2 separate regions of the Homo sapiens genome follow, and region 2 is linked to region 1. Evidence: fine-mapped expression QTL. A gene starts in region 1. The other region holds a variant in brackets. All regions are shown on one strand. Distances are between the middles of the regions.

Region 1 (10,229 bases):
ATATATCCTTCTGTACCCAAACACGTAACTGTCTGTCAGCTTTTTGTCAGTGGAATTAGTCCCAGCTGTTCTCTGTCCTTTTTTTCTTTTCTTTTCTTTTTTTTTTTTTTTTTTTTTTTTTTTGAGACGGAGTCTCGCTCTGTCGCCCAGGCCGGACTGCGGACTGCAGTGGCGCAATCTCGGCTCACTGCAAGCTCCGCCTCCCGGGTTCACGCCATTCTCCTGCCTCAGCCTCCCGAGTAGCTGGGACTACAGGCGCCCGCCACCGCGCCCGGCTAATTTTTTGTATTTTTAGTAGAGACGGGGTTTCACCTTGTTAGCCAGGATGGTCTCGATCTCCTGACCTCATGATCCACCCGCCTCGGCCTCCCAAAGTGCTGGGATTACAGGCGTGAGCCACCGCGCCCGGCCTGTTTTTTTTTTTTTTTTGAGACAGAGTCTTGTTCTATCGCCCAGGCTAGATCGCAGTGGTGCTATCTTGGCTCACTGCAACCTCCACCTCCCAGGTTCAGGCAATTCTCCTGCCTCAGCCTCCCAAGTAGCTGGGATTACAGGCGGCCACCACCACGCTTGGCTAATTTTGTGTATTTGGTAGAGACGGGGTTTCGCCATGTCGGCCAGGCTGGTCTCGAACTCCTGACCTCAGTTGATCCGGCTACCTCGGCTTCCCAAAGTGCGGGGATTACAGGTGTGAGCCACCACACCTGGCCCCAACTGTTCTTTAGAGTAACTTTATCTTCTGTATCAAATGAATCTGTTAGTATTCACAAGAATTATTCTCTCCCTCTCCCCACAGGCAATGTTCAGTATTCAAAAGATTCATCAAATTTTACACACCAGGGAGTTAACTTGACAGTTTATGATGAGTAACTATAGTTATCATTTTCATCAATGTGGCTTCACACTTTTATACATCCTAGGGCAAAATCCCCCAAAGTAAGAGCCTAACACCCAAGGCATATTCATCCCTTTATTGCTTTTCCTTCCTTCTTCCCTTCAACCTGCCAGTGAGCCTTCTTTTGATCTTGGGATGTGTTCCACTTTGTTTGAAAGAGCATCCAAAACTTTTCTAAGAAGAGAAATTAGCAGGGAAGGTTAGAAGGAAACAATGCTAAAAACATACTGTTTCTTTCCTTGTTAAGCCACGTGTAATGCCTGTAACAGGGGTGGACGACGGGGGAGGACTCCCGATGGCCTTCAGCAAATGGCTCCCCCAGGCCTTTGGGGATTTTATCACAATTTAGAAATCCCTCCTAAACTTCCACTTCCTCCCAGTCTCACTAATTTCTCTTTATCCACACATAGGCCATCCCAAAAGAAACCTGTTTTCATTTTAAACTTTAGAATCTGATCCATTTTCTTTTTAATTCATGAGCTTGAGCCTGGAGGCTTTAAAGGGAGGAAAATGGTTTCATTAAAATGGATGGATGGCTAGAAATAATATATAAAACAAATTGAACAATAGTTTACCCAGGAGGAAGAATCTTACAAAAATCTGGCAGTTTCCCTTCAACGGGAGATGGGTTCCAGCTGTTTGTTCCTGGAGATGGGTTCCAGTTGTGTGAACCTGGAGGCCTCTCCAGGTTCTGATTATATAGTGTTCCTAATATATAGTGTCCCAGTCCTGGCAGGGACATGAAAACCAAGGACACTGCTCTTGAACAAACGAGGAGGGTCATTCACCTTTTCGCTGGGCATGATTGGGTTAGATATTAACCCACCTGAATGGATTAGAGATTTGTTCTGGAAGACAAAGTTTGAGAAACATGGCCTTCTGTCCAAAAGTTGCCCTTTTCTGCTGTCTGTGGTGCTTACTCTTGTTCATGGCAGGACTGAGGTTTCCCTATTCACACATAATAGTCTGGATCCATAAGATAGCATCTCTGATCTCCCTGGGCCAACTCCAAGAACTGCCTTGGAAGATGTCACAGAGTAAGATATGGTCTTCCAGTAGGATGCTTTTCCACTGTACTATTTATCATTTATCATATCACATCCTATTTATCGTATCACATCATTTGGTTTCATGAACGGATGCTAAGCACGTTATTCCATCGATTTCATACAGCCAGGAAAGCACTTCCAGAGAAGGTTGTGTGACAGCTATTAGTACACTGCCCCTCCCCCTACACTCAACTTCTCAGCTTCTAACCCCCAGAAGCAGGCTTGCCATGTTTCCTGGGTTTCTCCTTCTTCCATCTTTACCTGTCCACAAGAGACTAACCCTGAACATTCAATCTTCTGATCCTTGTAATGTAGTTGCAAAATTGCTTATCTCCATCATCAAAGCAGGGCTGTAGATCCATTGCTTGCGTAAAAACAGTGGGCCAAAGGTCACCAGGATCACCTTATAGATCTCATAGTTTCCAATATCAGACAGCAGCAGGGTACCAACTGTTTCACAGACCCCCAGCATTTGCCCACAGTGGTGTTGGATCTAGGACAGTGTTATCTTTTTAAAAATCCTCAATCCTCTGTTGTCACCCACCTAGCTGCCAAGTATTCAGTCTGGCTGCACTTGAGAAGGTGTCAAGAAAAGACAGGCTGCCTGCTAGTAAAACAAATGCACTTGAAATCACAATAATTATAATATTCAGTGCAATCTTTCATTTTGTGAAGCTCTCACATACATGACTACATTCAACCAACACCAGGACTGTGTGAGGTAGGCATTATGTAAATATGCTCTGCTCATGAGGAAACTCCAAGAACAAACAGCAGATGAATGGTGGAGTCAGACTTTGAACCCTTCATAAGCAAGGAGAAAACTGACCTGTCTTTCCAGGCTTAGCTCAAGCAACACCACCTCTGAGTCCCGAAAAGCGGTACCCTGCCACAGCATACAACCCATATGCGCCTGCACACACACAGCCCCATGGCCTGAAGCACCAATTCAAGCACCGACTCACACAAACAGAGCAGCCTCTGATTTTAGAGTTCTGCAGTAGTGCTGAGGTGGGGCAACCAGCAGCCTCTGAATATAGTTAGGTCCCTTCTCTGCCTCTGGGCCTTCACTGGACAACCTTTGGAGGATACACAATCTGCCCACAATGCAAAAAGACAGTTTTATGTTTTTCTTTTAAACTTGGCACAAGGAAGTTTTGTTGAAATGAAAAGTAGGGTTTGGGGGAAAAATTACTATTTCATTAGAATGCATCTAAGCACTTAGTCATTTGTGTTTAAAATACAACAAGGAATTATATTCTATGATTAAGGAACATCACATCTTTGTCAGTAATTTTAATACAAATGAAGGAATCGCCAATTGCAAAAAACCTCATATATTTTTTAAATGTTCAGACAGCTTTAACTTGAAAGTCATTCCCCTTTCCTGGAGATTTTTTTCTCTCTCTCCCTCAAGCCAATAATGTCCCTGCACACAGACACGGGATGCACGGGTCCTGTTTCCAAGGACCCTAGTGTTAGAGCACTTTCCTCCTTCATACAGAGTATATATGTATCATTCTGTCTTAGGACTAATTATAAAATTAGATGATGGGAAGAATGGACTAAATAATTTCTATATTTCTTTATTATTCTAACACTTTAGGTCTATAAGCATGAACTTATTCAATAACGGAAGTAACAGGTAAAGAAGGAAAAGCACACGTGGCAAGAAGAACCACGTCTCCAGGAAGAGGCAACACTACTGATTGAAGGACAGTGGGGACAAAGTCCTGCTGACATGCCTGTATTTCCAAACAAAGACAAAAATTAAACATTTGCTTTTCAACCAACTCTGGGCTTTGTGCCCACTCACTCTTTGTTCCCATTCCCTCTTTCCCAAGTATTTCATGGCATTCTTCCGGGAATAACTGTTTACAGAGAATTACAGAGAATCTGCTTAAATACAGATTCAATAAAAACTCCTAAAGAAAGGTTTCACTGACCTTCATTGGTCCACTTTTTTATCCAGCTACTTTAATTTGAGTCACAGTGACCAATGCTTCCAACAATAACTTGACAAACCTCTTACTCTTGCCTGCTTATAACCTGATTATCTGTTTTCAACAATAGCTAAAGCCATTCCTCTTTTCCTGGAATGATTTTTTCCATCCTCTCTGCCAAACGATAGTTCATCTCCACATTACTAGAGTGCCTCATGTCCTGTTACTAACATCGTACCACTCCATGGAGTCATAGAACAAGAGTGGGAGGGGCCTCTGAGACTCTGTCCACCCCTCATATTAAAGAAGAGCCAACTGAGGAACAGAGAAAGAGACATGTATTGCCCAAGGAACTCATTGCATTCGCCGGCCTGGAAGCTTTCCAATGCACCACACAATTTTTTTTTTTTTTTTTTTTAAGACGGAGTCTTGCTCTGTCACCCAGGCTAGAGTGCAGTGACGCAATCTCTGTTCACTGTAACCTCCGCCTCCCAGGTTCAAGAGAGTCTCCTGTCTCAGCCTCCCGAGTAGCTGGGGTTACAGGTGCTCACCACCGTGCCCGGCTAATTTTTGTATTTTTAGTAGAGACGAGGTTTCACCATCTTGGCCAGGCTGGTCTCGAACTCCTGATCTTGTGATGCACCCACCTCGGCCTCCCAAAGTGCTGGGATTACAGGCATGAGCCACCGTGCCGGGCCCACACAACTTTTATATTCCATACTAGTACTTTCTAGACAATCAGAGCTAACTTTAAAGGGGCCACTGAAAGTTGCTGTTCGAAGGAAACCTACATTGACTATTACCATAAATTCAAAAATTATTTTACTCTGCTTGTCATCAGTAAAAGAATTGCTTGAATTGAAGCGTATGTAATAAACCTATCCTCTTGCAAAACTTGTTAGTGGCTCTGTGGTTAAGTAAGTCTTGAATACCTGAGGCTGCTTCTGGGAAGGTGGTCCTGTGCCACAGATAATGATGTCCCTTGGGTTTCTACTGATTACATTATGACTTGATTATAAGATTTTTACTGTCACGAGGGAGGGTCTTGGCTCATCTGAGATTTCCCTAGCCCCCTGAGTGGTGCTGAAATTGTTTTAATAAAGATGTTGCGCTTTACTCATGTGCTGCTATTAGCATTTGACGTGCTGTCTCAGAGCGAGAAAACGGAGGATCCCAACCTTCCAGTAGGAAGGCTTAGAGAAGAGGCTGTTGGCAAGTGTCTCTAAGAATTGCACAACACTGGCTGAGGGTGGGTTAAGGGTGAGGAGGCAGAGGAGAGTAAACAGAAAACACCGATCCCCAAATGTTAGTTACGCTTGCAAAAAACTAAGGCCTGCTTCAAAAAGCTGGTGATTAGCCTGAATAACTAGCAAAGCTTTCTTAGTTGTGGGCAAGTGCAGGCCTCCTAGGGCTTCCCTTAGGTTCGGCGATTCTGTGGTCCCCCTCCAAGCCTACTAATCAATAGAAGCTGGCATCTGTGCCCAGCTGCGCAAAGTAAACCTGAGTGGGAATGTAAAGTCGTTAACTCATACAAATACGGGACTTTCACGTCCCTCCCCATTCCTCCCTCTCCAGCCCCGTCCCGCAAACTCCTCCCCAAGGAGTCCCAAGCTGCCTCTACTAGGAAAGGACTCCCCGGCCTAAACGCCCCTTATGAAGCTACCAGAGAGGAGGAGGAGGAGCAGGAGTGTGAACCTACCTCGGCCTCAGAACAAGTCCGCAGAAACGGGCAGGACAATGGAAAGAAGTTTTGTTTCTCACCCGCTTCTTCCTCCCTAGTACGATGATGGGGAGCCGGTAGAAAACGCAAAGATGTTCTTTTGAATCCTGCTTTGCATCTAGGTGGGGTTGGCGTCCTTGTGTGAGTGTGTGTACACGGACGGAGATGGGGGCGTGGTGAGGTGTGGAGGGTCGGCGTGCCAGCCTCTGCGTAGTTGGGACCGCGCCCCGCTTCTCCGAGGAGGCCCCTCCCGCCTGGATCCGCCCTTGGAGCTGGCGCCGCAGCAGCACCCGCCCCAGGGGCCGCAGGGGCAGCCCAGGCAAAGAACGAGCCTGGGATCCGCGCTCCTTCCTCAGCTGGACCCCAACGGGCAGCAGCCGCGAGAGCACTGCCTCCACGGAGAGCAGATGGCGGGAAACTGGCTTCTGCTCCCAATTGCCAGGCGGCCCTTCAGAGACTACCCCTGGCTGAGCGTCCAGGAACCCATGAAACTTGGTCTTGACACTGGTCGACAGCACCATCTGCCACGTACTTATTCGCTGCTGCTTTCTTTGGCAGGACAGCCCATCGCGAGACAGTTTGTGTTTCAAATTTAACGGAGACTTTTTTTCAGTAGTTGACAAAAGGGGGTGGAAAAACAGTAGCCACGAGGGCTCGTCCGGGATTTGAACCCGGGACCTCTCGCACCCAAAGCGAGAATCATACCCCTAGACCAACGAGCCACTGTAGCTGAGTGGTGCTTCCTATCACTCTGAATTTCTCTTTTCCGCCTGCTGTTCTGAAGGTTTTTTGTTTTGTTTCTTTTCCTCTGTTGTGACATTTCCCTTAGGCCTTATTTAGTTATTCCTTCCATCTTCACCAAGTTTCAAGTGTGGCTTATTCTCTGGCTTATTCTCCTCGATCCAGATGCAGGATGGGGTGAAGGAAGGCAGCTTTTTAGACTTTAGGTCACATGCTTGTGTCTCACTGAGCCCGGGGAGCGATTTAAGCCCGCTAGGGCCTGGAGGGAACCTGGAGGGGGCTGAAATAGAGATCGAGGGCCAGAGCTGAGCTCGGTTGCAAGGCTGTAGGGTACTGAGCCCCAGGACAGACGCGCGATACGTATATATCTGCCGGCCTTTGGACTTAACGTAGAAGCCAAAATATAACACACTTCGGTAAGACAACAGTGCCTTCCCCCAACGGTGGGACGATTCGGGTCTACTATCTTTCAGAAAGGTAACCAACTTTTCAAGACGCGATTAACGCAGCCCACCTCGCGGCTAAGCTGTTTCCTTCGGACAAGGGTGAGAGACAGAAACAGATTTGATCACGTCAAGATACAGAGATTTTTTGCACAAACGAAGAGCAACCGTAAACCCCAAAACAGCAGCGTCTCCTTCGAGCCGGAATCGAACCAGCGACCTAAGGATGACCACACATTAAGTACTACAGTCCTCCGCTCTACCAGCTGAGCTATCGAAGGAAGCACGGAAACAACTCTCCTAAAAATCCCTACTCGAGACATCCTTAACCAGAGACGGGAAAGAAAGAAATCTCTTTATACCCGGAAAGTAATTACTGCAGAGTCACAAAGCCAGCTTGTAAGACAGTCCTGCGTCCGAGGTTCTGAGGACAACCTTTCTAAATCTGGATTCCCCTGCCTCACTGAGGGGCTCCCAAGCAGAGCAGGCGCCCCTGAAACTCGGGCATACCGAGGCTGCTCATCCTCTGGGCGCCCGAGGGCTGTTGGCCTCACTGGGCGCGGACCCAGGGGCCTCGCGAGCGTGGATGCGTGTGTTTGTGTGTAGGGTGGGGACCGGCACCTGGGCGTCGGAGAACTGGGGGCTGAGGCGGTGGGACGCACACAATTCTGACTGCGCAACTGTGAACGCCGGAGAGGGCGGGCCTCCAGGCTTAGGCCCGGGCTCCCTGATGTCCTCACTTCCTGCGCTTCCCTCCCAATCTCGGCTCTTCCGCTTACACGTCCACAGACACGGGAGGGAGAGGGTGTGGAATGGAGCAGTGGTCCCCAACATTTTTGGCACTAGGGACCGGTTTCGTGGAAGACAGTTTTTCCACGGACCGCGGGGGCGGGGGGAAGAGTTGGGGGATGGTTTCGGGATGAAACTGTTCCACCTCAGATCATCAGGCATCACTTAGATTCTCATAAGGAGTGCAGTTTAGATCCCTGGCATGCGCAGTTCCCAATAGGGTTCGCGCTCCTGTGAGATTCTAATGCCACCACTGATCTCACAGGAGGCGGAGCTCAGGCGGTACTGGTAGCTAGCCCGGAGTTCACCTCCTGCTGTACAGCCGGGTCCCTAACAGGCCATGGACAGGTGCGCGGCCCAAGGGTTGGGAACCCCTGAAATAGAGGACATCTGGGCAAACCCAATGTTTCTGTGTGAATTCGCTTTTGGAGATAATATTTGCAGCTCATTCAAAAGGAAGGCCACATTTCTCTGCGTTAAAATCAAATTTAGTGACCCAAGTCTCGCCCCTAAAGTCGGGCCCTTAATTTCCCAAAACCCCACTGGCACATGAAACCTTGCCTCACAACGTGCATCTCTCTTCTGGACGCCTGGCCGGAGCGGCCATTGCTGGCTCTTCCCGTTTCAGAAGTGGAACCTTGATCTCTACTCCAAATATGCCCAGACCCGGGGCTTGAGAATAGCTTAAAGGGCTATTGTCTCGCCTAGCTGTCCCCATTTCCCGCCCGGCAGTCAGCAGGGCTCTCGCCGCCAGTCCGCAAGCCAGGGCGTGGGCAGAGGCTGACGGTGATTTCCACCGCCTGTGTAATGGATTCCGCCGCATTCCAGGAGCTAAAGCAGCATTACTACTGGAACCTAAAGGAAACGTTCTGCTGAGCTAGTGTTTGGAAGCTCTGAACAGAGGAAAGAAGCTCTAATTTGCCACATTTTCTGTGACTTAGTTCAGAAAGACTAGAAGGGGAGTTTTTCAAAAAACACCTGAATCAAGAAAGTAGTTTCGCAAGGCCCCAGCGAGATTTGAACTCGCGACCCCTGGTTTACAAGACCAGTGCTCTAACCCCTGAGCTATAGGGCCTCACGCAGAAACCGCCTCTTCCTTTCACAGAAAAGGAAAAGATTTGCAGGGCTTCTGCCAGCATCTGAGCATAGAAACTAAGTAAAACCTGGATGTCCTTTCAATCCATTTCCCGACTACTAGAATTCGGTTCACAGACTCAGTGTTCTTGCTGGGGATGGTACAAAGTGAAGGCCAGTGAGAGGGACCACTACTATCCTAAGATTGGAGAAATCTGCCCAACGCGACACAGTCTAACACAGAAAGATTCTCCACTCCCTCACTTCAGACTGAAAATTAAGAAGGGAAAACCGGCAGAGGAAGGAGCTCACCACAGGTCTCACTTGAAACTGCTGACATCCGCATTTTGTTTCCTGCTTGACTCAGGACTTCGTACCAGCAACTGTCTGCCTCCAGAGACCTTTCTCACAGCTGCGAGTCTCAGTGCCAGAGCAGGCATTCGTTAATTTGCAGTTTAATTCATTCCTTCATTCAACAAACACTGCATTCCAGTTCTGTACTAGGCTCTGCACTAAGAATTAGGGATCCAGATATGATCTTTATCCTGAAGTCACTGTCACAGTTTTGTGGAACAAAAGAACTTTAGTTTTCATGAAGGAAAACAATGAAAAGTAGCTGTGCCAGGTGTGAAGGGGCGTTGGCCATGCCAAGGTCCACACATTTACAAAGTGAACCATCCGGGGGTGTCTTCAAGAGGGCATTGGCCTGAGCTGCACTATGAAGGGAGGTTAAGACTTAGACAAAAATGGGAGCAGGGTGGTCCCTGGTAGAATAAAATTACGAGCAAAGTCCGAGAGAAAGACTGAGACATTCAAGGGAACACTGGCTGGGGCAGCAGGTGAGAAGATTAGTAGAAGAAAATAGAAATTCACCAAACATTGATGAGTTTGCGGAATTAATTGAAGGGACGAGCAACCAGAGTCAGAAACACCAGTGACTGGCCATGGTGAAGATGCTCAAACATAAAGCTGCAAAAAGGTAATCGTTATGGGACTGGAAAGGAAGGGATGAGTGAGAGCGTTACAGGGCAGGGCGATTCTGCTGAACCTAGGTATGAAGTGAAATCAAGAGGAAAGAGAGGGGACTCTCAAAGGTGTCTTGAAGAGGCAAGATAACACCTGCAGAAAAAAGGAAGCCTACTTCTTCAGCGTATCTGGAGAGGGCGGAGGGGTGACGCTAGGATTTAGGTAAGCTGAATATGAAGTGAAGGTGGAGCAGTTCATGGGAATTGCATGATAGCCAGAATAGTCTCGTGTCTAGAGTTTCATGAATTGATAAATGAATTAATCAAATTACATAAGTCATCCATTGAGTTAGAGACTCTACGAGTTATGCACTCTTGAAGGAAAAGAATACAGAGAAAACAGCTGAGACTAGAACATAAGTTTTGAATAGCCCTGTTATAGGCATATGTTATGTTAGTGTGTGTCCAACATCTTTTAAAAATTCTCCTTACATGTGGATATTTCACATATTATAAGTAAGTCTGTCCTAGAACACTTGCTTTCCCAGCTTACAGCTGAGAATGGGCATGTGACCTGGGCTCCACCAATCAGATGCATCGCCCAGGAAGC
Region 2 (16,988 bases), 260 kb after region 1:
CTGGAGGAGCCTGGTTCCAGGCCCCTGGTCCCAAGGAACCTTCCCTTTCCAGCCTTGTCCCTAGAGGAAGAAGAGGAAGAGGAAGAAGATGAAGATGCGGCAGAGCCCGAGTGGCTGCGCAGCGAGGAGCATCCGAGCCAGTTTTTCGCCGAGGCCCAGCGGCTGCGGGAGCAGAGACTGTTGCTGGACGAAGAGGTGTCAGTCGCGGGGCGGGTATACGGGGTGCATCGGGTGATCCTGGCCGCAATCAGCAGCCTCTTCCGAGACAGGCTGCTGGGCGGCGGAGGTCCGCGGCCCCCCTTCAGCCTCGAGGTGTCCCCAGGGGGCTGGGAGGCCGTGCTGACCTTTGCCTATGAGGGGGTGCTGGGCCCCGCCTCGCAGGGGGATGTGCTGGCCGCAGCAGAGGCGCTGGGAGCGCCCCGGGTGAAGGCTGCTGCCCAGCAGACATGCGAGAGGGCTGGAAATGCCAGGGAAGATGTAAAGAAGCCCAGCCAGGCAGAGGAGCTGAGGGAGAACCTGCGCGGAATCGAGCTCCTCTACCGAGAGGGCGTCGGGTGTGACTTGAAGCTGGAGGCAGGCGGCTGCCAGCTGTCGGGTGAGGGCCTGTGGGGCATTAAATTACTGCAGGTGCATATGCTAACGGAATGGTGTGTGCAAGCAGCAGGTGGTTTTATCCCCACCATGATGGTTTTGATCCCTGCTGCTGTCAGAATTTCCCTGGGGTGGCCTTTGGTGCCTCTCCTGCCCCACGGAGAGCCGGGCATGCGCAGTCGAGTTGTTTTCTAGGCGCTCTGACAGATTTAAACTGACCCTCTGTCTGGCTTTTCCTGTGTCCAGTAACAAGGAATCTCCAGCCAGCTGGCTAGAGCTAAGGGTACAATCCATGGCAGTAGAACAAGCAGAAAGTGGATTGACTCAAGCAGAAATTAACAAAAGGCCCTTCTTGGCATCCTCCATTCAGGACACAGGAAAGCCAGGGGAACATGGTGGAAAACTCAATGTGTGCTTTCACCTTGGTGTGCTTGACGCCATGGCTGACTTATGGGCCCTGCAGCTAATGAGCAAGGTCTGGTACTGTTTAAGGTTACCAGGCCGTGGCACTTTTTTTTTTTTTTTCTGAGACAGCATCTCACTCTGTTGCCCAGGCTGGAGTGCAGTGGCACAATCTTGGCTCACTGCAACCTGCACCTCCTGGGTTCAAGTGATTGTCCTGCCTCAGCCTCCCGAGTAGCTGGGATTACAGGCACCTGCCACCATGCCTGGCTAATTTTTTTGGTATTTTTTTAGTAGAGATGGGGTTTCACCAGGTTGGCCAGGCTTGTCTTGAACTCTTAACCTCAGGTGATCCACCTGTCTCATGCTGGGATTACAGGCATGAGTCACTGCACCCGGCCTGGCCATGGCACTTTGAAGTTAACTCTGCTCATCACCAGGAAAGCTAAGTAGGGTTGCATAAGTTGAGTATTATTCGGAGTCTACTAACATTTAGTGAGGCACTGGGTACCTGAAATTTTTACACATGACATCTCTTTTTAAATTTTACTGAAAGCTGGTGAGGTCAATATCATTATCTACAGGTGCACATAAGGAACATTAAATTTGGAGATGTTGACTTGGGACAACCCCAGGATACAAGCCTACATCACTAGTCCAGTCTCCTTCCACTAGGCCATGTGGACACATTGAAAGTTTAAAATTACAAGGGATTAGTTTAGAGATTATCTAGTTGGGCTGTTACACTTTGATGATGACGAAATCAGAATCCAAGACTTGTCCAAAGTCACATAGCTACTGCCCATTAGAGGAGTGACTGGGAACTGAAGTGCTTCTGGGACTCCTAGAAGGAAAACCACTCCAAAAGTCTATTTTCATTTATGATAGCACTAGATGGAGAGGGGATTTAAATTTTTCATAATCATAAAATTCTCACTAGGCTTTTGAATTTAAGCATACTCATATCACTGCTTTTATTTCCCTAGGAAATATTCCTACTTAATGGTTGCGAATCTGTCACTTAAAATCCTAGGGTATAGTAATGAGTAAGAGGTGAATACAAGTGGCTGTGAGCCCTTTCAGGGTTGGCTCTGAACTATAGGTTGATTGATGATATGGGAGCTGAGATGGCTTAGCTTGTTTTGAGGAATGCAGATTTTCTCAGACAATATATATTTGAAATCTGTCATTGATGTTTACTACTTGGGAAGCACCAGGCCACTACCTACTGCTTAAAAGACAGTGGAAAGTCATATGAACAACACCTGCCCTTTGGGAAAGGCACGCATGCCTCAGTTGGTCAAAGCAGCATGGAGTTCTTAAACAGCTTGGCCCTCTGTGACCTGCCTAAAAGGACTTCTAGGAGCATTACCCCCCACCTTTTTATTATGAAGCATTTTACAAAACCAAGAATATTAAGATGAACATTCAAACAACACCCATCACCCAGATTTAACAACTAATATTTTACTATATTTATTTCATCTGTTCATTTTATTTTTTACTGAAGTTTAAAGGAAATTCATGACATTTTACTCATAAGTATTTGGGTATGTATCTTTTTAAAAGAAGACAATTCTGTGGGACTAGGTGTGAAAGGAAAAAATAAAACAAAGAGGACATTTTCTCATAACCATAATACCTTTATCATGCACGACAAAATTAATAGTAATTTCTCTCTTTCTTTCTTTCTTTCTTTCTTTCTTTCTTTCTTTCTTTCTTTCTTTCTTTCTTTCTTTTTTTTGAGATGGAATCTTGTTCTGTCACCCAGGCTGGAGTACAATGGCACGATCTCGGCTCACTGCAGCCTTCACCTCCCAGGTTCAAGTGATTCTCCTGCCTCAGCCTCCCGAGTAACTGGGATTACAGGCGTGCACCACCACACCCAGCTAATTTTTGTATTTTTTGTAGAGATGGGGTTTCACCATGTTGGCTGGTCTGGTCTTGAACTCCTGACCTCAGGTGATCCACCTGCCTTAGCCTCCCAAAATGCTGGGTTTACAGGCATGAGCCACCGCGCCTGGCCAGTAATTTTTTAATATCACCTAGTCCACATTTATATTTTCCCAGTTGTCCAAAAAACATTTTTTAAAGTGAGTTTGTTCAACCCAGGAATTAATCAAGGACTATGCTATTCTCAGTTGCATGTCTCTTAAGCTTCCTTTAATCTAGTACAGTCCTTCCTCCTTTTTTTTTTTTATTACTTTATATATTGATTGGTAAAGACAATAACATGTAAGATTGGTTACCCTGGGCCAGGCATAGTGGCTCACGCCTGTAATCCCAACACTTTGGGAGGCCGAGGCAGGCAGATCACTTGAGGCCAGGAGTTCAAGGTTAGCCTGTCCAACATGGCGAAACCGTCTCTACTAAAAATACAAAAATTAGCCAGGCATGGTAGCGTGCACCTGTAGTCCCAGCTAATCTGGAAGCTGAGGCACGAGAATCACATGAAGCTGGAGGGTGGAGGTTGCAGTGAGCCGAGATTGTACCACTGCACTCCAGGCAGGGTGACAGAGTAAGACCCTATCTCAAAAAAAAAAAAATTGGTTATCCTATAAAATGCTCCATTTTCTTGATTTGTGTGGTTTTTCCCCTCTAAATTGTTCCTTTAGCCTTTCAACTTCCTATAAACTTGACTTTAGATCTAAAGAGTTGAACAGATTCAAGTTAAATATTTTGGCCAGAATAATCCATAAGTGATGCTGAGTATGAGGTCTAATTGTTTAACAGCGTAGGTTAATAGGACAGTTTCATTGTCATGAGGACCATGCAGATAACCAAGGTATTGGTACACAAGCATGCTTATTGCAGCCTGACATCAGTGGCAGTGGATGGAGATGATCTGCCCACACAGCCACTGCATGGAAATGAAAAATAAATCACATGCTTTCTTTGGGACCCAACTCAGTTTCCACATTTTATTTATTTATTTATTTTGAGATGGAGTCTCGCTCTGTCACCCAGGCTGGGTGCAGCGGCGCAGTCTCAGCTCATTGCAACCCTCGCCTCCCAGGTTCAAGCTATTCTCCTGCCTCAGTCTCCAAGTAGCTGGGATTACAGGCGCCTGCCACCATGCCCGGCTAATGTTTGTATTTTTGGTAGAGATGGAGTTTCACCATGTTGGCCAGGCTGGCCTTGAACTCCTGACCTCAAGTGATCCTACCCACCTCAGCCTCCCAAAGTGCTGGGATTACAGGTGTGTGCCACGACACCCAACCAGTTTCCTTATTTTAAAGGGAATAATTGAATTAGATTATTTTGAAGTTCTCAAGTTTCAGATCTCATGATTCTACAAATTACACCAAGAACAGGAGAGGGTTATGCAGAGAAAAGCTGGGACGCACGGAAAACATTAAACACTAAATCTTAGGCAAGAGGAGACAGCAATCCGATGAGGTTGGATTACAGCCATTCCCGAGTGGTGCCACTTTCCCAGCAAAATCTAACAGAATGGCTGACAGTCTTGGCTCTTGATTGTAAAGAATTTTATTTTGTCACGATATAGACAGACCTATATAAGTTGCTTGTTGGTCATTTCCCATTTATTTTGTGCTCCTCTTAGCAAATGCTTTCCTCTCAACCTGATCCATGAAGACTCTTTTTCTGACTCATCTGACCAAAAAGACTAAAGCAATGTTTATCTAAGTGTCTTCAGGCCACTAACATGAGAATCACATAGGGTTACTTGAAGTGTTACAATACAAATTTCTAGGGTCTCCGTCCAGAACTGCTGAATCAGAATCTCTGGGAGTGGACTGCTGAAACCTGCATTTTAACAACTACCCCATGGTATTCTGATGCACACCACAGTTTGGTCTGTAGCAGTGGGTGGCTTGGAGGGCCAAACTTAGAGTTTGGCCAAACTTAGAGTACCAAGTTGGGGTAATGCCTATCGGTCTTGCAATACTTTGAGTCCTCCTCTATTCCTTCTCCCCTCCTGCAGTGCACCGAGCCGCCCTGGCCTGTGGCAGTGAGTTCTTTGGGGCCATGCTCCTGAGCGGGATGAGGGAATCCCAGGGCACAGAGGTATCTCTGCGGACGATCTCCACCCAGGACCTGCGACTCCTCGTCTCTTTTGCTTACTCCGGAGTTGTGCGGGCAAGGTGGCCAGGGCTACTGAGAGCTGCCCAGGCTGCTCTGCAGTACCAGAGCTCTTCCTGCTTGGATTTGTGTCAGAAAGGCTTGGCACGGGGCCTCAGCCCTGCCCGTTGCCTGGCCCTGTTCCCCATGGCGGAAGCCCCTGGGTTGGAGAGGCTCTGGAGCAAAGCCCGTCACTACCTCCTCACCCACCTGCCTGCTGTAGCCTTGTGTCCTGCTTTCCCTTCTTTACCAGCTGCCTGCTTGGCTGAGCTCCTGGATAGTGATGAGCTCCATGTGCAGGAGGAGTTTGAGGCCTTTGTGGCTGCACGGTGTTGGCTGGCTGCCAACCCCGAGACCCAGGAGTCAGAGGCCAAGGCCCTGCTGCGATGTGTCCGCTTTGGCCGCATGTCCACCAGGGAGTTGCGGAGGGTGCGGGCAGCCGGGCTACTTCCACCCCTGACCCCAGATCTGTTGCACCAGCTGATGGTAGAGGCTGATGTTCCAGGCCAAGAGAGACGGAGGGAGCCTGACCGGGCACTGGTAGTGATTGGCGGGGATGGGCTCAGACCAGACATGGCCCTAAGACAACCATCCCGAGCAGTGTGGTGGGCCCGGGCCTTCCGCTGTGGCGTGGGACTGGTACGAACTGTTGAGTGGGGGCAGCTGCCTGCCCTGCCTGCCCCCGGACGCTTCCGGCATGGGGCTGCAAGCCTGGCAGGAAGTGAACTCTATGTGTGTGGGGGACAAGATTTCTACAGTCACTCCAACACCCTGGCTTCAACTCTCAGGTATAAGCTTCTAGGAGTGGGCAGGGTGTGGCAGGCCCTAAGGTGGGCAGGGAGAGAAATTGCTGGCCTAGCCAACCACGGATGCCCAGAGTCCCTCTTCCAATCTCTTGTCCTACTGTGTCCAGGTGGGAGCCCAGTCAAGAGGACTGGGAGGAGATGGCTCCTTTGTCCCAGGCTCGAAGCCTTTTCTCCTTGGTGGCACTGGATGGAAAACTTTATGCCCTGGGTGGAAGACACAATGATGTTGCCCTGGACTCTGTGGAGACCTACAACCCTGAGCTCAATGTCTGGAGGTAAGCAGGCAAGGGGGCATCTGGGAGAGATTAGGAGACTTGGAATAGAAGGAGAGTTGAAGATGCTAGTTGCCTTATCTTGTGTCCTGTTCTCCCTTAGGCCAGCACCTGCACTTCCAGCACCATGTTTTGCCCACGCAGCTGCGATTTTGGAGGGCCAGTTGTACGTGAGCGGTGGCTGTGGTGGGACTGGCCAATACCTGGCCTCACTGATGCACTATGACCCCAAACTTGAGAAGCCAGGGACGTTTCTGAGCCCTATGGGGGTACCTCGGGCTGGCCATGTCATGGCTGCATTGGGTGGGAGGTTGTATGTGGCAGGTGGGCTGGGTGAGACTGAGGACCTGCTAAGCTTTGAGGCCTATGAACTAAGGACTGATAGCTGGACTCACCTGGCACCCCTACCCTCCCCCCATGTGGGGGCTGCAAGTGCTGTGCTGCAGGGGGAGCTACTGGTGCTCGGGGGCTACAGTCACCGTACTTATGCCCTCTCTCACCTTATCCATGCCTACTGTCCTGGCCTGGGCCGATGGCTCTGCCTGGGAACTCTGCCAAGGCCTCGGGCTGAGATGCCTGCCTGCATCCTGACACTGCCCGCTGTGCAGCACATAGCTTTGGTTCCCACCCCACACCAAACCAAACCTGCTGGGTGAAGAGGGAGCAACAGTGTATGGGGAGAGGAGGGCATAAGAAATAGCCTGAGAGAAGGACAGAGATTGTGGGGAGTGAAAAGAGGCTTTATTCTTGGTAGTATTTTATTCTCACACTGTGCATTGTAAACTGCTTTTGTACGTATGATCTCCGTTGAGGAAATGGTGGTTCCAGAACTCCTAGGGAAAACATATAGGGAAAGGGGAGGCAGCTGAATACCCAGGTGAGGAAAGGAGACTCGGGAGCAACTCCACAAGGCTTAGGGATTCTTAGGGAAAGGGCATCTAGTTTGAAAGAGAGTTAAGAAGCTTCAGTAGCCAAAGTGTAGAGACCATGGGAGGACAGTTGGAAAAATGGTTCTGACCCATGGATCATGGGA[A/C]AAATGTGGAATGGCCATCCATGAAAGAGTTTGAGGAGTGTAGGAGTAAGGACTGTAAATCGTTCAGCCCTTTTTTTCCTGGAACTTGCTCCTTTCTCCTCTCCCACCCCTGGGATGCCTAAACCTTCTTAACAATATTCTCTCCCGGGTAACTTTGTAGGCCTGGTCTAGCGTTTCCCAGCGAGACACCACAGGCTGCCCCTGAGAACCTCTTGGTTTCCTTCTGAGGCAGAAGCTCCCACATGGACATGCACGGCACAGGGGCCTGAGAGGCCTGACGGGCCCCCCAGGGCCATGTGGCAGGAGTGTTGTGTGGGAAAGATGATGGGGGCAGAGGCCAAGGAGGGAGAGGCCCACAGTGGAAAAACAGATGATCTGAGGTTTAAGGAGATGGGGTGGAAGAAGTCAGAAGCCTGTGTGCCTTCTTTCTTTTGGGCAAACTGAGGAATCAGGAGTGAAAATGAGACCGTTGTTGCCTGAGGTCTCAAGTGGTGAGAGGATGTGGGGGGAGAGAAGAGTGAGAAGCAGACAAGACTCAGAAAAGTCATTTCCCCCTTTCAGTTCCTTTCCCCCAGAGTTATTTTTAAATCCATTTCCCTTTATCTTGGCCAGGGAAGGTAGTCAGGTGCTTCCTCTTTCTCTCTTCCCCCATCCTGCTCTCCCCACTGCCTCTCTTTTTTCTTTCTCTTCTTTCTCCCTCACACAGTTATTAATTACCTACTGTGTGGCAGGCACTGTAGGAGGCACCAAGATACAGAGGTCAGAGAGCTCCTGACCAGCAGATAGACATAAACAAATACAAATTTTGAGTGGACTTACATGTATGGACGAGTCTTGCGAGAGCCCAGAGGATAGAGCAGTGAACTCTGCTCAGGAAGGCTTCTGTTAGGAAAGGTGTCATCCGATGGGTGTATTTTGAACTGGATCTTAAAGGCTGCCTAGAGTCTCACCCATTAGAGAAGGGGGAATGCATTTGAAACAGAAAGAAGTGGGGCATGCCATGCCCTGTTTCTCCATAGCAAAGAGGAAGTGGGTATTCCAGAGGCTTTTCAGATAATTCTGCTGCTCTTGCCACCTACTCTCTTCTCTGGAGCCTTCCTGAGGATAATGGCTTTCACTTAATGATTGTGTATTCCCGCCCTCTATGACTCACCTCTATCCTTCCTGTCTGCTCTTTCCATTTCTGCCTACTGGACAGCTGAGAGCAAAAAAGGGTCAGTTTTTTTGTGTGTGTTTAGGTCAATTTTCTTTTTCTTTTTTTTTTTTTAATTTATTTTATTTTATTATTATTATACTTTAAGTTTTAGGGTACATGTGCCCAATGTGCAGGTTAGTTACATATGTATACATGTGCCATGCTGGTGTGCTGCACCCATTAACTCGTCATTTAGCATTAGGTATATCTCCTAATGCTATCCTTCCCCCCTCCCCCCACCCCACAACATTCTCCAGAGTGTGATGTTCCCCTTCCTGTGTCCACGTGTTCTCATTGTTCAATTCCCACCTATGAGTGAGAACATGCGGTGTTTGGTTTTTTTGTCCTTGCGATAGTTTACTGAGAATGATGATTTCCAATCTCATCCATGTCCCTACAAAGGACATGAACTCATCATTTTTTATGGCTGCATAGTATTCCATGGTGTATATGTGCCACATTTTCTTAATCCGGTCTATCATTGTTGGACATTTGGGTTGGTTCCAAGTCTTTGCTATTGTGAATAGTGATGCAATAAACATATGTGTGCATGTGTCTTTATAGCGGCATGATTTATATTCCTTTGGGCATATACCCAGTAATGGGATGGCTGGGTCAAATGGTATTTCTAGTTCTAGGTCCCTGAGGAATCGCCACACTGACTTCCACAATGGTTGAACTAGTTTACAGTCCCACCAACAGTGTAAAAGTGTTCCTATTTCTCCACATCCTCTCCAGCACCTGTTGTCAATTTTCTTTTTCTTTTTTTTTTTTTTTTTTTTGAGACAGAGTTTTACTCTGTTGCCCAGGCTGGAGTGCAATGGCGTGATCTCAGCTCACCGCAAACTCTTCCTCCTGAGTTCAAGTGATTCTCCTGCCTCAGCCTCCCTGAGTTGCTGGGATTACAGCTATTACATCTGGCTAATTTTGTATTTTTAGTAGAGACGGGGTTTCTCCATGTTGGTCAGGCTGGTCTTGAACTCCCGACCTCAGGTGATCCACCCACCTCGACCTCCGAAAGTGCTGGGATTACAGGCGTGAGCCACAATGCCCGGCCTGTGTAGGTCAGTTTTCTATTACCATTGTTTATTAAGATTTTCATGTTTCTAAGGGTGATGATGGAGTCTCCCTTGCACCCTTCTTCATTCTGGCCCCAGAAGTACTTGGCATGTATTTTATTTATTTATTTTTAGATTTCGTTATTTTAGTAAGATCTTTTTCTGTATCTCTATTTAAGATAGACTAGGAATGTAATTGAAAATGAGAAGGGGTAAGTAGGATGTATAAGAGAAAAGAGAAGGAAGAATAAAGAACGGGAAGAAGGAAATTGAAGGAGATGACAAGCTCTCTGGATGAACTTCTATGAACATTTTTTGTGATTTGTACCTAAAGGCAGACTTAAATAAAGGTTTCATAGTGACTGAATCTTTCTTATCTGAGTTTCTCTACTATAAAAAGCATTCAAAATAAAATTCCCTGTATTCTGCCTTCTAGGTCTACCACATGATTGAAATCATCTCCCTCCACTGTTACTGTGACCTGCTTCTTACCAAATCTAACAATCTGTGGCCATCTTCATTCTCTTTCATCTTTCTACAGGAACTGATTGGCGTGAAAACTGGCTCTTACCCTAAAAATTTCTCTTCTTCTGGCTTTAGAGATAGCACACTCTCCTGGATGGACCTTCTCTTATTTCTCCAATCCAAAATCCAGTAAGCCAGATCAAAGTGTCCAGGGGGGTGTGGCTTCATCCTTGGAGCTGATAGCCAAGGATCCACAGGTATGTGGATGAGGGTGGTTCATTGCAGAAAGTTCTGACTTTCATTATTTGTCTTTAAAACTGAGGGAAGAGTGAGGAGAGAGGAGACCTCTGACTTGAAGGAGGACCCTAGTCAATAGTCCATTCATCAGTGAGAAGGGACTGAATATAGGCAAGGTAACAGTCTGGGTCTTCAGCCAGGCAGACTAAGAATAGGGTAATATCAGGGTAACATTTCAACCCCAGAAGGGAAGTGGAGTGAGAAGTAGGAATTGGGATAGAAACTATGCATACAGATTGGGCAGCCGTGGTGGTGACCTGGCAAGACTAGTTTGATGACTGTAGAGGCCTGGGATTCTTACCTTTGGTGAATCAGATGATAAGCCAAGGTGTTCTAGATGCTCTCTAATAGCTCCCCCAACAGTCTTCCCTCCACCCCCTTTGCTGGTGAGGGTGAAATTTCTGATATCTCTCTTATCTTTCCAAGGTTGACTCAGGTACTGGGTAGGACTGGACATGCAGGTTAATGTTTAGTACAAGTAAGTGTGTGGGACTCTAGGTATCACTTGTCTCCTGTGCCTAGTCCTGGCTGGGTTGCTCACGTTCTTCCTTTCCTTTGTTTTATGCTCCCTGTCAGGAAGCTCACCTCTCCTCTGTCTCCAACCTTGATGGTTCGCCTGGGTTCTAGTCTGATTTTTTTCAGTGATTCTCACCTCCATTTAGATGTGCCAGCATCATTAGTTCAGATTCCTCATGCTTTATTGGCACTATCATTTCTCCTATTTCCTGGGCCTGAAGCTTTGGAATCCTCTTGAGCTTATTTTCCTTTATCTTTTCTTCTTTACTTGACTCATCATGTAATACTGGACTACCCAAAGAAAAACTGACTTAGTGTCTTCTCCCAATCTTTTCTGTGTTAAATATAATATATACGGAAAATTTTTAGCCAGGTGTGGTGACACATACCTGTAATCCCAGCTACATGGGAGGCTGAGGCACGAGAATTGTTTGAACCCGGGAGACGGAGGTTGCAGTGAGCTGAGATTGCACCACTGCACTCCAGCCTGGGTGACAGAGTGAGACTCTGTCTCAAATTAATAATAATAATATATGGAAAATTGATAGCAAGGAAGGTTTAAAAAAATAGAAGAGCAAATTTATATGAAAATTTCACTAGCTGTGAAACCAAGAATTATTACTTACCCAGACAGACACTCTGGGTTGTAGAAGCAACAATGTTCAATCAAAAGAATGAAAAAGTGCCAGGCACCGTGCTACATGCCCATAGTTCCAGCTCCTCAGAAGGCTGAGGTGGGAGGATTGCTTTAGCTCAGGAGTTCGAGTCCAGCCTGGATAACATAGTGAGACCCCATCTTGAAAAAAAAAGGAATAAAAGAAAAATTGCATAGAAAGATTATTTAATAGAATTATAGAATGGAGAGGTTTCAGAGATCATGTAATTCAAACCTTTTGTTACACAGCTTAGGAAATAAAGTTATGTGGTACACAGTCTGGATAATGAAGAGGAAGGCTTTTCATGAAACTAGTCTCTCACATACATTAGGACCAACAGGCAGGCTAAGACAAACATCACAGACGAGGTCTATAGACAGGACAGTCATAATTACTCTTTCAGGATCATAGACTATATCCTAAATCCTGTCTAGCCCTTGAGATCAAGGAGCCCTAAGTGAAAACGTGTGAATTCATCACAGCTCCTGGTAAAACACCTACCAAAAAAATTATAGATAGATAGATATTTATGTGTATATACATACATACATATATATCATTAGTGGTGAGATTATAGTCTGTTTTCTCTGAGAGAGAAATGATCATGGTATTATTACTGTAGCTGATTCAGAATTTAATAATCTATATTTCGTGTTTGATATGTTTTGGATCTGTGTCCCTGTGCATATCTCATGTCAAATTGTAATCCCCAGTGTCAGAGGTGGGGCCTGGTGGGAGGTGATGGGTCATGGGAGTGGTTTCCATGGTGGGTTTAGCCCCATTCCCTTGGTGGTGTTCTTCTGGTAGTGAGTTTTCGTGAGAACTTGTTGTTTACAAGTGTGTAGCACCTTCTGCCTCACTCTCTTTCTTGCTCCTGCTCCTGCCATGTAAGACGTTTCACGCCTCCTTTGCCTTCTTCCATAATTGAAAACTTCCTGAGGCCTCCCCAGAAGCAGATGCTGCCATGCTTCCTGTATAGCCTGCAGAACCATGAGACAATTAAACCTCTTTTCTTTATAAATTACCCAGTCTAGGGTATTTCTTTATAGTAATGTGAGAACAGACAAATACAGTATTAGAAGAATGACAAAAAAAACGTATAGCCTTGAAAGTGTACTGAGCTAGATTCAGTAACTTGGCTTCAAGTTTCAATTCAATTGTTGCTTTGGTAATTATGAGTAAGTCCTTTAACCAGTTTGAATTCCAAGTTCGTACCCCATAAAATAAGCACCATAATGGTATTGTAAACACCACAGTGTTATTATAGCTCATGAACCCCAGAGCTTGGGACAGTCCTAAGGACCTCTAGGCACATTTGGAAAAGTGTGCCTTGGTAATCTATAAATCAAGTTCCTAGGACATATCCTTTTAGATCAGAGAGCTAAATGATGCCAAACAAGGAGGCCAGTATACCGTAGTGACAGGCTCCTGAGACCACGAGTACCGTACAGAAGGTTATAAGCTACTCCAGCCTGATGTACTCCTGAGACAGGGAAGCAGATTCATCTGGATTCCAAATGAGGCCAAGGCATATAGTTAGAGAGCTATGTATCAGTTAGTTGGTGTTTTGTTTTGTTTTGTTTGAGACAGAGTCTTGCTCTGTCTCCCAGGCTGGAGAGCAGTGGCGCAGTCTCCGCTCACTGCAAACTCCACTTTCTGGGTTCAAGTGATTCTCCTACCTCAGCCTCCCGAGTAGCTGGGATTATAGGCACATGCCCGGCTAATTTTTGTATTTTTAGTAGAGACAGGGTTTCACCATGTTGGCCAGGCTGGTCTTGAACTCCTGACCTCAAGTGATCTGCCCGCCTCAGCCTCCCAAAGTGCTGGGATTACAAGAGTGAGCCACCGCGCCCGGCCTATATATCAGTTTGACTAATTGCCAGGTAGGCAATCTGAGCCCCAATACACACTTTTCAAGCAAGCTGTCACTGATGAAAGCCAACTCTTTCATTGCAGAGTAAGAACTGCTTGTTTTATTTTTTATTTTTTTGAGACAGAGTCTCACTCTGTCGCCCAGGCTGGAGTGCAGTGGTGCGATCTTGGGTCACTGCAACCTCCGCCTCCCAGATTCAAGTGATTCTCCTGCCTCAGCCTCCAGAGTAGCTGGGATTACAGCAGTCTGCCACTATGCCTGGCTAATTTTTGTATTTTTAGTAGAGATGGGATTTTACCATCTTGTCCAAGCTAGTCTTGAACTCCCGACCTCAGGTGATCCACCTGCCTCAGCCTCCCAAAGTGCTGGGATTACAGGTGTGAGCCACTGTGCCCAGCCTAGAACTGCTTGTTTTAGATTATAGTTATCATTGTTTGTGCTAGCTATATGCCAGGTGGTATGCTAAGTGCTTTATGTATATTATCTAATTTGAATGACAATACAGTCCATAAAAAGCGGGTGCTATTATTATTCCCACTTTATAGATGAGAAAACTGGAAGATTAGAGGAGTTTGTAAATGTTGAGCATGTATTTAAACTGGTAGAAGGACTTTATTATGCCCCCTCTCTAATGTAGCTCCATCTCCACTTGAGTGGCAAGCTTTATCCATGAAACTCATACATGGGCTCTACAAGTGGGAGCAATGAGCGAGTATAAGTGCCACTGGAGGTTTGGAGACATGGTCTTGAAAAATTAACATCCAATTGCTGTAATGCAAATAGCTGTGAATTTAAAAGACGCTCAGCCAGAGAAAGGGGCAGTGGGTTCTTCCTTCCAGCAGTTTTTTTCACTTATTAGGATGTATTGAGCTGGGGATTGTTATGAAAATGAGACAGGAGGTGAGACTTTTCAAACGGAGAACCTAGCCTGACCCCTTTGCCAAATCAGCATCATGTGATCTTACTGCAGACTCAAGGACCACTCTCTGGCCCCTTTGAGGGTTGAGATTATTAACCTTATTTTCTTCTACAGCTTAGGTCACACTGCTAGTCAGTAGCAGAGGAGGATTTAAACACAGATCCATTGGACCAGGTGTGGTGGCACATGTTTCAAGACCTTTGTCTCAAAAAATAAAAATAAAAAAATAAAAAATAAACCCAGATCTGTTGGACTCCAGAGTTCATGTTTAAACAACCATATTTAATATATAATATATTATCTGGCTGGGTGTGGTGGCTCACTCCTGTAATCCCAGCACTTTGGGAGGCAGAGGTAGGCGGATCACCTGAGGTCAGGAGTTCAAGGCCAGCCAGGACAACATGGTGAAACCTTGTCTCTACTAAAAAGACAAAAAATTAGCCAGCGGTGGTGGCAGGTGCCTGTAATCCCAGCTACTTGGGAGGCTGAGGCAGGAGAATTGCTTGAAACCAGGAGGCAGAGGTTGCAGTGAGCCGAGATTATGCCACTGCACTCCAGCCTGGGCAACAAAAGCAAAATTCCATCTCAAAAAAAAAAAAAAAAAAAAAAAAAAAAAAATATATATATATATATATATATATATATATATATATGTAATATACTATCTTCACCCATATCTTGGATTGCAGCCAAGTACTCCAGTTCTTCCCTGATTATCTGAATTCCCCTATTTTTTAAATTCTTCCTACAAGTCATTAAAATGTTCCAAGTTCACTATTTTTTTTTTTTTTTGGGACGGAATCTCTCTCTGTCACCAGGCTGGAGTGCAGTGGCACAATCTCAGCTCACTGCAACCTCCGCGTTCCCAGGTTCAAGCAATTCTCCTGTCTCAGCCTCTCGAGTAGCTGGGACTACAGGCGCATGCCACCATGCCCAGCTAGTTTTTGTATTTTTAGTAGAGATGGTGTTTCACCATGTTGGCCAGGATGGTCTTGATCTCTTGACCTTGGGATCCGCCCACCTCGGCCTCCCAAAGTGTTGGGATTACAGGCATGAGCCACCATGCCCGGCCTTTTTTTTCTTTTTCATTTTTTTTTTGACACGGAGTTTCACTCTTGTTGCCTAGGCTGGAGTGCAGTGGCGTGATCTTGGCTCACTGCAACCTCCACCTCCCAGGTTCAAGCAATTCTCCAGTCTCAGCCTCCCAAGTAGCTGGGATTACAGGTGCACGCCCCCACACCCGGCTAATTTTGTATTTTTAGTACAGACGAGGTTTTACCATGTTGGCCAGGCTGGTCTTGAACTCCTGACCTCAGGTGATCTGCCTGCCTCTGCCTTCCAAAGTGCTGGCATTACAGGTGTGAGCCACTGTGCCCGGCACCAAGTTCACTATTTTGAGATCCAAAGTTTACTTCCAATTACCTCTGCCTCATCCCATCCAAAAGCAGGACTCAAATCCTTTTCGGGATCAGGTGTACTGTTTTTGTCTCAAAAAAAAAAAAAAAAAAAAAGTAGGATGATTACAGAGTACCCTGATGTAAACTGTCTTATGTTTTGCAGGCCTAGTGTACCAGTTATCATTTGCTGCCCAAAACTTTGTGACTTAAAACAACAACCATTTAATCATATCTCACAATTTTATGTGTAACTGACTTCACTAAATTTAGGCAGGCTTCCACTAGATGATTCTTCTGTTTCATGTGTCATTAGTGGAAGTTACTTGATAATAGACAATTGGTAGATGAACTGGTCTGAGGGACTTAAGACTGCTTCTTTCTCCACTAGGGCACCAGACAGGGCACATGTCTGGTGCCCTGGTGGAGATGGCTAGAAGGCTGAGCTCAGTTGAGTGTGTTAATTGAAACACCTACATGTGGCCTCTTTAGAGTGGCAGTCTTACGGTAGTTGGACTCACATGGCAGCTCAGGGCTTCCCAAGGGAGTGTTCCAGAGTCCTGGAGGAAGTGCAAGTTTCCTTTGACCTAGCTTCAGAAGTCCCAGAATGCAACTGCTGCCACATTATATTGGTCAAGCAAGTGACCAGGTCAGCCCAGTTTCAAGAAGGAATTAGACTCTGCCTCTCAATGGGAGAGGAAGCAAAGAATTTGTGGCCTATTTTAATTACCATACCCGATTAGGGAGACTAGTCAGTGAGGAATGTCCTTGAAGAAAGATGAAGAAAGAGGTCGGGCATGGTGGCTCATGTCTGTAATCCCAGCAGTTTGGGAAGTTGAGGTGGGCGGATCACCTGAGGTCAGGAGTTTGAGACCAGCCTGGCCAAGATGGTGAAACCTTGTCTCTACTAAAAATACAAACAATGAGCTGGGCATGGCGGTGGGTGCCTGTAATCCCAGCTACTTGGGAGGCTGAGGCAGGAGAATTGCTTGAACCCAGGAGGCAGAGGTTGTAGTGAACCGACATCGTGCCACTGCACTCCAGCCTGGGCGACACAGCAAGACTCTGCCTCAAAAAGAAAAAAAAAAGAAAGATGAAGAAAGATATTGGCAAATGTCCACAGACCAGAGGCCAAATGCAGGGTTGTTTTGATTCAGAAGAGTCAGAAGGGAGAAGACACTGAGGTTCTTGTAATCTGCTTTCAGATGGCCCAGAAGGGCTTGTCTGAGGTGACAAGTGGCTATCCAGTAAGTGTGTGCTTGTCCACATATCACGGCTTGTGTGATGCTTTAAGTTGTGATGGTTAGGTCAAACAAACGTATACTGTGAATCTAAAGGTAATCATTCACAAAGAAGAAAAAAATCAGGTAAAACCAATGGCCTTTCCACTTCCTACTGGTCACTCCCCTCCCAGCTTATCAGAGGCCT

Evidence for each region.
Region 2: its variant is fine-mapped to the expression of RNASE4 in uterus (GTEx, PIP 0.94).

The regions. Positions count from the first base shown.
Region 1 is chr14:20,680,116-20,690,344 of GRCh38, reverse strand. It overlaps RNASE4 (ribonuclease A family member 4), which reads right to left and starts at 5,785. Exons shown (of 2, transcript NM_002937.5): 1 at 5,587-5,785. ANG (angiogenin) reads right to left here and starts at 1,581. Exons shown (of 2, transcript NM_001097577.3): 1 at 1,471-1,581. TRT-TGT5-1 (tRNA-Thr (anticodon TGT) 5-1) reads right to left here and starts at 8,655; the gene lies at 8,583-8,655. TRY-GTA5-5 (tRNA-Tyr (anticodon GTA) 5-5) reads right to left here and starts at 7,072; the gene lies at 6,984-7,072. It also overlaps TRP-TGG3-2. RefSeq lists enhancers at 5,494-5,633, 6,434-6,563, 6,704-6,893, 7,094-7,403, 8,124-8,173 and 1 more and silencers at 5,864-5,983, 6,254-6,303.
Region 2 is chr14:20,418,671-20,435,658 of GRCh38, reverse strand. KLHL33 (kelch like family member 33) reads left to right here. Exons shown (of 5, transcript NM_001365790.2): 2 at 1-595; 3 at 4,940-5,864; 4 at 5,990-6,157; 5 at 6,258-9,807. The coding sequence ends at 6,810. Among named protein-coding and RNA genes, the nearest start is that of KLHL33, 9.0 kb to the left of the region's middle. RefSeq lists an enhancer at 6,033-6,665. The variant A/C (reference allele first, on the strand shown) is at 7,188.